2 linked regions of the Homo sapiens genome follow. The protein of the gene in region 1 purifies or fractionates together with the protein of each later gene. This does not show direct contact. Each region holds a gene or a part of one and is shown on either strand. Other genes may lie near its edges.

Region 1 (3,500 bases):
TATCTCTATCAGGTGAAGTAAAAGGTAGGTGATAGTAGTTACTGGCAGTCTAGAATGGAAGTGAGTTAATGTAATATCCAGCATTTTTATCAAATAATACTCACCAACATCACCTTAACTACCTGAACAGCATCTACCAATGATACCCACAGGTGTCCTGGAGATCTTGAAATCATCTCAGGTAGAGGAAGCTTTCAGAACCACAGAGCTTAGTTACATTTTCTTTCAAAAGGCCAAATTCTCCAAAAACGTCCTATGCAAACATCCTCGATTTCTTCCATAGGTTTTATGATAAGATCTGTAGAATGCAAAATATTGGATTAGACATTAAGCAGTATCCAAGTCATGTATAATCCTATGAGCAGAATGTCCTTTTGTTTCCTTCATGTTGGGGATAAAATTTTTTATTAGTATTGCCATATCATTTTATTCATTCATGATTAAGTCAATAAAAATTTCAGCTGGGGCCATGGTTGGCCAGGTGTGGTGGCTTATGCCTGTAATCTCAGCACTTTGGGAGGCTGAGGTGAGTGGATCACTTGAGGCCAGGAGTTCGAGACCAGCCTGGCTAACATGGTAAAACCCTGTCTCTACTAAATAATACAAAAATTAGCCAGGCGTGGTGGCGCATGCCTTTAGCCCCAGCTACTAGGGAGGCTGAGGCAGGAGAATCACTTGAACCCTGGAGACAGACGTTGCAGTGAGCTGAGATCATGCCACTGCACTCCAGCCTGGGCAACAGAGTGAGATTGTGTCTCGAAAAAAAAAAAAAAATTCCACTGGCTGGGCACAGTGGCTCACGCCTGTAATTCCAGCACTTTGGGAGGCCGAGGTGGGAAGATCACGAGGTCAGGAGATTGAGACCATCCTGGCTAACACGGTGAAACCCCGTCTCTACTAAAAATACAAAAAAAAAAAAAAAAAAGCTGGGCATAGTGGCGTGCGCCTGTAATCCCAGCTACTTGGGAGGGTGAGGCAGGAGAATCACTTGAACCCGGGAGGCAGAGGTTGCAGTAAGCCGAGATTGCACCACTGCACTCCAGCCTGGGTGACAGAGCGAGACTGTCGCAAAAAAAAAAAAAAAAAAAAAAAAATTCCAAAACTCTTCCCACTTTGTGACGTGCAGTTCTCCAGGCACTGGAGCTATAACTGAACAAACAGCCTGAGTCCCTTCCCTCACACAGTTTAAATCCTAGTGGACAGAAGGCAGACCCTAAACCAATATTTAATGTGTCATTTTTTATCTTTTTTCTACATGAGCAACCCAAATACACCCGTTTAGTGCCAGAAATCTCTTTGTGTTTTCACCTCGTTCTGGTTCCTGGTTCTGCCAGTGACAGATGTACAGGGATGCAGCTTCTTCAGGGTTCTGAGATGCTTTCAGTGGGAAAGGGGCGCTTGGATCTACAATAGATAATAGAATTTTCTGTGTTTCTGCTCCCAAAGATGATCCTGCCAGGTACTAAGCTAGTAAATGAACACGCTGAGTTTCTCCTTGCAAATTTAAATAAGTCTTCTGCTTGCTTTTATCATCAAAAAGTCCTAACTCTATACCAAAATATGAGTTTTCTAATTTGCCATACCATAGAAGAAGGGTGTGTATGCAGTAAGTACAAAAGGAAAATAAATGTCTTCCTTTCAGTGAAAGAGCTCTTAGACCCACTGCTTTTTATTCACTGTGCTGCTTGAAGTGAGGTTAGAAAAGGAAAGCTCACTGGGCTAAGAGTCAGGAGACCCAGGTCTAGTCCTGCTTGTGCCGGTCACTATATGGGTGACTTTGGGAAAGTCATTTGCCTCTCCAGAGTTCATTCTCCTCAATTATAAATGAAAATGTTACAACTGAAAATTTATATATTATCAGCTCTAGTATGTTTCTAGTATTGCATTCGTTTCTCCACTTCGTAACTTTCATGGTTTTTCCAGTGGTCAGATTTGGGCAGAAAGCACTGATTCAAGAACACAGATTTCCAAGTAGAGAGGTGCAGGGTAAATAAACCTCCATGTAAGCCCGCGGTGAGCGCAGACTGTGAGTGACGAACACGGTGTCAGTGTAAGCTGGAGGTGGTGGGCCAGGAGGATTAAACAGGGTAAGGCAGCTTACCACTGTGCCTGGCGATGCGCAGAGTAAGTGCTCAGTAAACGGTAGCTGCTGTTATTAGCACTGTTATTATCATTGTCAGCAAAGAACACCTAGACAGCCTTGAGCACTGGAAGGCACCTCAGAGACTGTCACAGGGGTTCCTTGCTAGGATTCCAAGGACCCCAGTTTCAGCAGCTTCACGAACACCCTGAATTGCACACAGATGGCGTGTGTGTGCACATCCTATATTTCTTACACCTTTCAGTAGAGAGGGTCCCTAGTTTCCTTGGCTTCCTCAGAGAAAATGTAACAAATGAGCACAGTGCCTGGTCCAGAGGGTGGCCTACCTTAGGGCCAGGTGTGCTGACGGAGGTACCTTGAGCTGATACTCATTTCCCTCCCTCCTCAGAACTGTCTTCTCAACCACCTTCTCTCTCCTACAAAGATATGCCAAGTGCTCTTTAGGGACAGTACCAACACTTGACAAATTCAGCTCAGCATGAATGTCATTGAGCCCATGCCCCGTACCAAGGCCCAGGCTAGCGAGTGTAAGGAGTACAAAAACAAGTGGGTGTGGTCGCTGCCCTTGGGACTCACATTCTAGTGGAGAAGTCAAACAGACCCAGCTCAGATACAGAGCGGCGCAGGGCAGAGTGCTGAGTCTAGGATTACAGTGCAGGCTCATGGAAGGAGGTGGAATTTGTGCTGGGCCTATGTCAGAAACTCACAAGCAGGGAGAAGCACGTGGGGAGGTCAGCAGTCCAGGCAGAGGCAGGAGCATCATGTCAGCAGATCGGTGGGAAATCTGGTGGGACTGGAGTCTCTGGAGTGGAGACAGGGAGGAAACAGTGAAAGGAAGATCAGAGACAAGAGGGTAGGGCAGAGCTGTGGCTAGCTTCTGAATACTGAACCTGAGAGGTTTGAGTTTATCAGGTAAAGGAGGAGGACCCTTCACAGATGCTGTTCAGAGTCGTGGGATCCCGCTGGGAAGTGTGGCTGAGCTTTGCTGTGTTGTTCATCCACTTCTGTTTTCTGACTTGGTGTTAGCCACATTTTTTTATGGTAAAATTCAAAAACATAAAATTTACCATTTCAACCATTTTTACAGTGGCATTATCTAACATTCACAGTGTTATGCAACCATCACCACCATCTATCTATATAACTGTTTTAATCTTGCAAAACTAAAACTCTGTATCCATTAAACACCAACTCCCCAGCTCCCCTCCCAGCCCCGGACAACCACCATTCTACTCTCTGTTTCTGTGACTCTGACCAGTCTAGGTACCTCATGTGAGTGGAACCATGCAGCATTTTTCTTTGTGGCTGGCTTCATTCACTTAGGAAATGTCCTCAAGCTTCATGCATGTTGTAGCATGTGATGTGATTCCCTTCCTTTTCAAGGCTGACTATTCCATTG
Region 2 (3,500 bases), on another chromosome or scaffold:
ATGAAAATGCCTCTGGGGTGATGGCAGTGACTGCCTCAGGGGGCCTGAGTAGGGAATGCATAAAAGAAGGTACATCCAGAGCTCTGCACGGGCTTGGCCGTGTGATGATGACTGCCCATTCTGCTGCCATGAGCGCTGGGGTGATGTCCAGAGGAGGTGTCCTCAGAGGGAAATACACAATTCATCTCACACCTCTGCTGCAGCCATGGGCAGCACCGACCAACAGGCCTGGTCTGTCCATCCCATGCCAACTCTGGCTTCGCCTGCCTCCCTTGTGGCACTAGTTGCTGCCCTCAGCTTTGGCCCAGCTCAACTCCACCCCTTGTTTCTACAGTACCCAACTCCTGGCCTGCTGGGCCTAACCTGCCCCAAACCAACCTCTCTGGGAGGAAGAAAGAGTTTGCCTGGGCTCTGAACTACTTTGACTGCACATGTGTCACTGGGGCCTACAGTCTGCGTCTGCCCCAGGCCTTCTGGACCTTTTTTTTTTTTTGAGACAGGGTCTTGCTCTGTTGCCCAGGCTGGAGTGCAGTGGCATGATCACGGCTCACTGCAGCCTCGACCTCCCAGCACAATCAATCCTCCCATCTTGGCCTCCCTAGGACCTTCTGTTCTTTCAAGCACAGGGGACAGCTGGGCTGGCACCTACCTGAGAAGGTCAATGTCCGTGTAGCCATATTTAACCTTGTAATCCCCGATCCGCCGGGTGCTCTCCTGCCCACAGATGATCCCCACCTGCTTGATCTTTCCAGCATCCAAGCCTACGGAGGGAAACAGTGCAACAATCCTGCTTCTTGTTCACAAAGAGGAACAAAAAGAAGGGGACAGAGACACAGTCATGGGAAGAAGGCAATAAGGACCCACTGAATAGGAAATGAAGACAACACCAGGGCACCTGGGAGAGCAGCTGACCCAAAGTCCCTGGTGTCCTCAGTCCCCACGCCCATCACGACACACCTCACTCAGAGCCCGTCCTCCAGGCACCACCTGGCACGGAGCAGCTTGCCTGCCGTCTCCCTGCCCATCCCGTGTGCCCCACATCTGCCTGGAGCTCACTGGGAAGGGAAGGAGCAGCTCAGCAGCAGCTGGGCTCCCTGGACTTCTTTGGCCTCTTTCAGTCTCCACCAATAACAGTAAGTGTCTTCTGTGTGCCAGGCACTCCAGGAAGCATTTCACATGCACTAACTGAATCCTCCTAGCATCCCGAGGTAGGTTACTATTATCCTCATTACACAGCGGGGGATCTGAGGCACAGAAAACTTAAGTTCCAATCACCAACCAGTAAGCGGCAGTGCTGGGAATGAACCCCAGGCAGGCTGGCTGGGGAGCCCAAGATCACAGCCCCTCTACCACACGCCTCTCTACCCCACCACCAAAGGCAGGCGAAGGGTGAGCCCATGGGGATCAGCTTCCGCTCCCACTCTCCCCACTCACCCAGCTGCGAAAGACGGAAGAGCTCATCCTCGTTCTCTGTGGTGTGGTCCACGTTCAGCTGTGTCACCTGCAACCCATCCACTGTCGATTTGCATAAAAGTGCACGGTTTGTACCTGTGGCAGAATGTGAACAGCTAAGCAAAGACTACACACAGAGAGAAATAGGGCATACCGGGAAGGCAGAGAGGGAAAAGGCAGGCATTTCACACATGGAAATACCTGAAATGGGCAAAACAGGCTCAGACCAACGGGGTGAGTCACCAGTTAGGGACAGCTGGTGATACGAAAGAATTGGGTTTAACTTTTTCAGTGTAATCATAGGATTATGATCTTAATAAAACAGACCTCTTCTCTAGAGATACAGACTGAAATATTTACAGATAACATGATACAGTGTCTGGCATTTGCTTCAAAATAGAGAACGTGGGGACAAAGAAGGCTGGCCACAGTTGATAACTGCTGGGATTGGGGATGGGCGCATGAATGTTCATTAAATATCAGTCACTCTATTGTTCTATATTGTGGAAAATTTTCCACTGGAGTATTAAAAAAAGGCAGCATCATCAGAAGGGTCTCTACAGAGTCCTTTCTACTGAAACCTGCACCTGTCTGGTCTTCTCACAAACCCCAATGTCCCTGTCACCTAGCCCCATCTCGCAGCTGTTCATGGGGATACTGGTTGGTTATTCATGGCCAGGTAACCTCTTCCAGAAGCAGCGGCCCCCAAGGCCACCCAGAATGGGATACGACTCGTCCAGAATGAGTTAAGAAGCAGAATAGGGACTAAAGGCCAGGACACCTGTCTCCCATCCCGTCCTTTCTCCCTTCCAGTTGGGACTGAGGCGTCACTGTGGAGAGGGACATACCCAACGGTCTCAGGAGACCCTGGGTTTAAAGTGCGTGAAGTGTCTGGAAAGCAGATTGTCAAATAATGCACCGACCCCTGTGGCTGACCTCTCCCCAGTCCTCCCTGCCCTGGGACAGGAGGGGGCTCACCGACATTGGCGACGTAGAGCTTGTTGTTGAGAAGGACCGCCACAACGGCCATGGCCCCTCCCGAAATTTCCCTCTCTAACGTCTTGAGTCTCTCAAGGATCTTCTGATACTGAGGAGGCAGCTGGTGCTGAGGGACTCCCTACAACCATCAACAGAGGGTCAGGGCAGGACAGAACTCTGGACCATCTTCCTAGCCCTCTCCACTCCCTTTACTCTTTTTTTTTTTTTTGAGATGGAGTCTCGCTGTGTCCCCCAGGCTACAGTGCAGTGGCATGATCTCGGCTCACTACAAGCTCCGCCTCCCAGGTTCACACCATTCTCCTGCTTCAGCCTCGAGAGTAGCTGGGACTACAAGGCGCCCACCACCACGCCCAGCTAATTTTTTGTATTTTTAGTAGAGACGGGGTTTCACCATGTTAGCCAGGATGGTCTTGATCTCCTGACCTTGTGATCCGCCCGCCTCGGCCTCCCAAGGTGCTGGGATTACAGGCGTGAGCCACCATGCCCGGCCTCCCTTTGCTCTTAAGAGCAAAGATCCGAGGGCCCGGGGGACAGACAGACAGATGGTCCATGGCACAGCCAAGATGAAGCCTTCGCTACAGCTCCAGGCTAAGGTTCTTCCAGAAAGCTGGAGATGACCGAACTCACAGCACAGAGGTAAGCGCTGCAGGTGGCAGTAGGCGATGTGAGCAGGTGGTTGACAAGGGCGGGGACCCATTCAGGACGAAGGACTGGGAAAAGCCCTTCCTCATGTCCACCACTGCCCAGACACTGCTGAGCTTTAGCATGCAGCTGCCCACAGCAGAGCAGCGAGGTCCCTCACCTGTGGCCACACACCAGTGTCACCCATCAGGAACTGCTCCCTAACGCCTGTTGCTCTGGCCCAGTAATGTCAAGAAAGTAGATGAGTCCATGCTCCTTGCAAAGCTGGGCCTGGACTTGACTCCCCTGGGTGTCGGCTGGGGAAATTACCTCTGGCAATTGCGACTGGAGGCTTGCCTTCTCAGCCAAGGCGTCGTCAATGGACTCCAGGAAGCTCCTCTCCACCACATCGAAGGCCTAGGGGGACA

Evidence for each region.
Region 2: the proteins of RIPK1 (region 1) and TAB1 purify together in Homo sapiens (affinity purification with mass spectrometry; 3 studies listed by BioGRID and IntAct, with this or other methods). This does not show direct contact.

The regions. Positions count from the first base shown.
Region 1 is NC_000006.12:3,106,494-3,109,993, forward strand, and holds part of RIPK1 (receptor-interacting serine/threonine-protein kinase 1), read left to right. Parts: exon of another isoform or gene 1-298; intron 299-1,308; exon of another isoform or gene 1,309-1,404; intron 1,405-2,808; exon of another isoform or gene 2,809-2,903; intron 2,904-3,500. UniProt on the Homo sapiens protein: Serine-threonine kinase which is a key regulator of TNF-mediated apoptosis, necroptosis and inflammatory pathways.
Region 2 is NC_000022.11:39,416,780-39,420,279, reverse strand, and holds part of TAB1 (TGF-beta-activated kinase 1 and MAP3K7-binding protein 1), read right to left. Parts: intron 3,490-3,500; coding exon 3,403-3,489; intron 2,570-3,402; coding exon 2,431-2,569; intron 1,549-2,430; coding exon 1,435-1,548; intron 762-1,434; coding exon 650-761; intron 1-649. UniProt on the Homo sapiens protein: Key adapter protein that plays an essential role in JNK and NF-kappa-B activation and proinflammatory cytokines production in response to stimulation with TLRs and cytokines.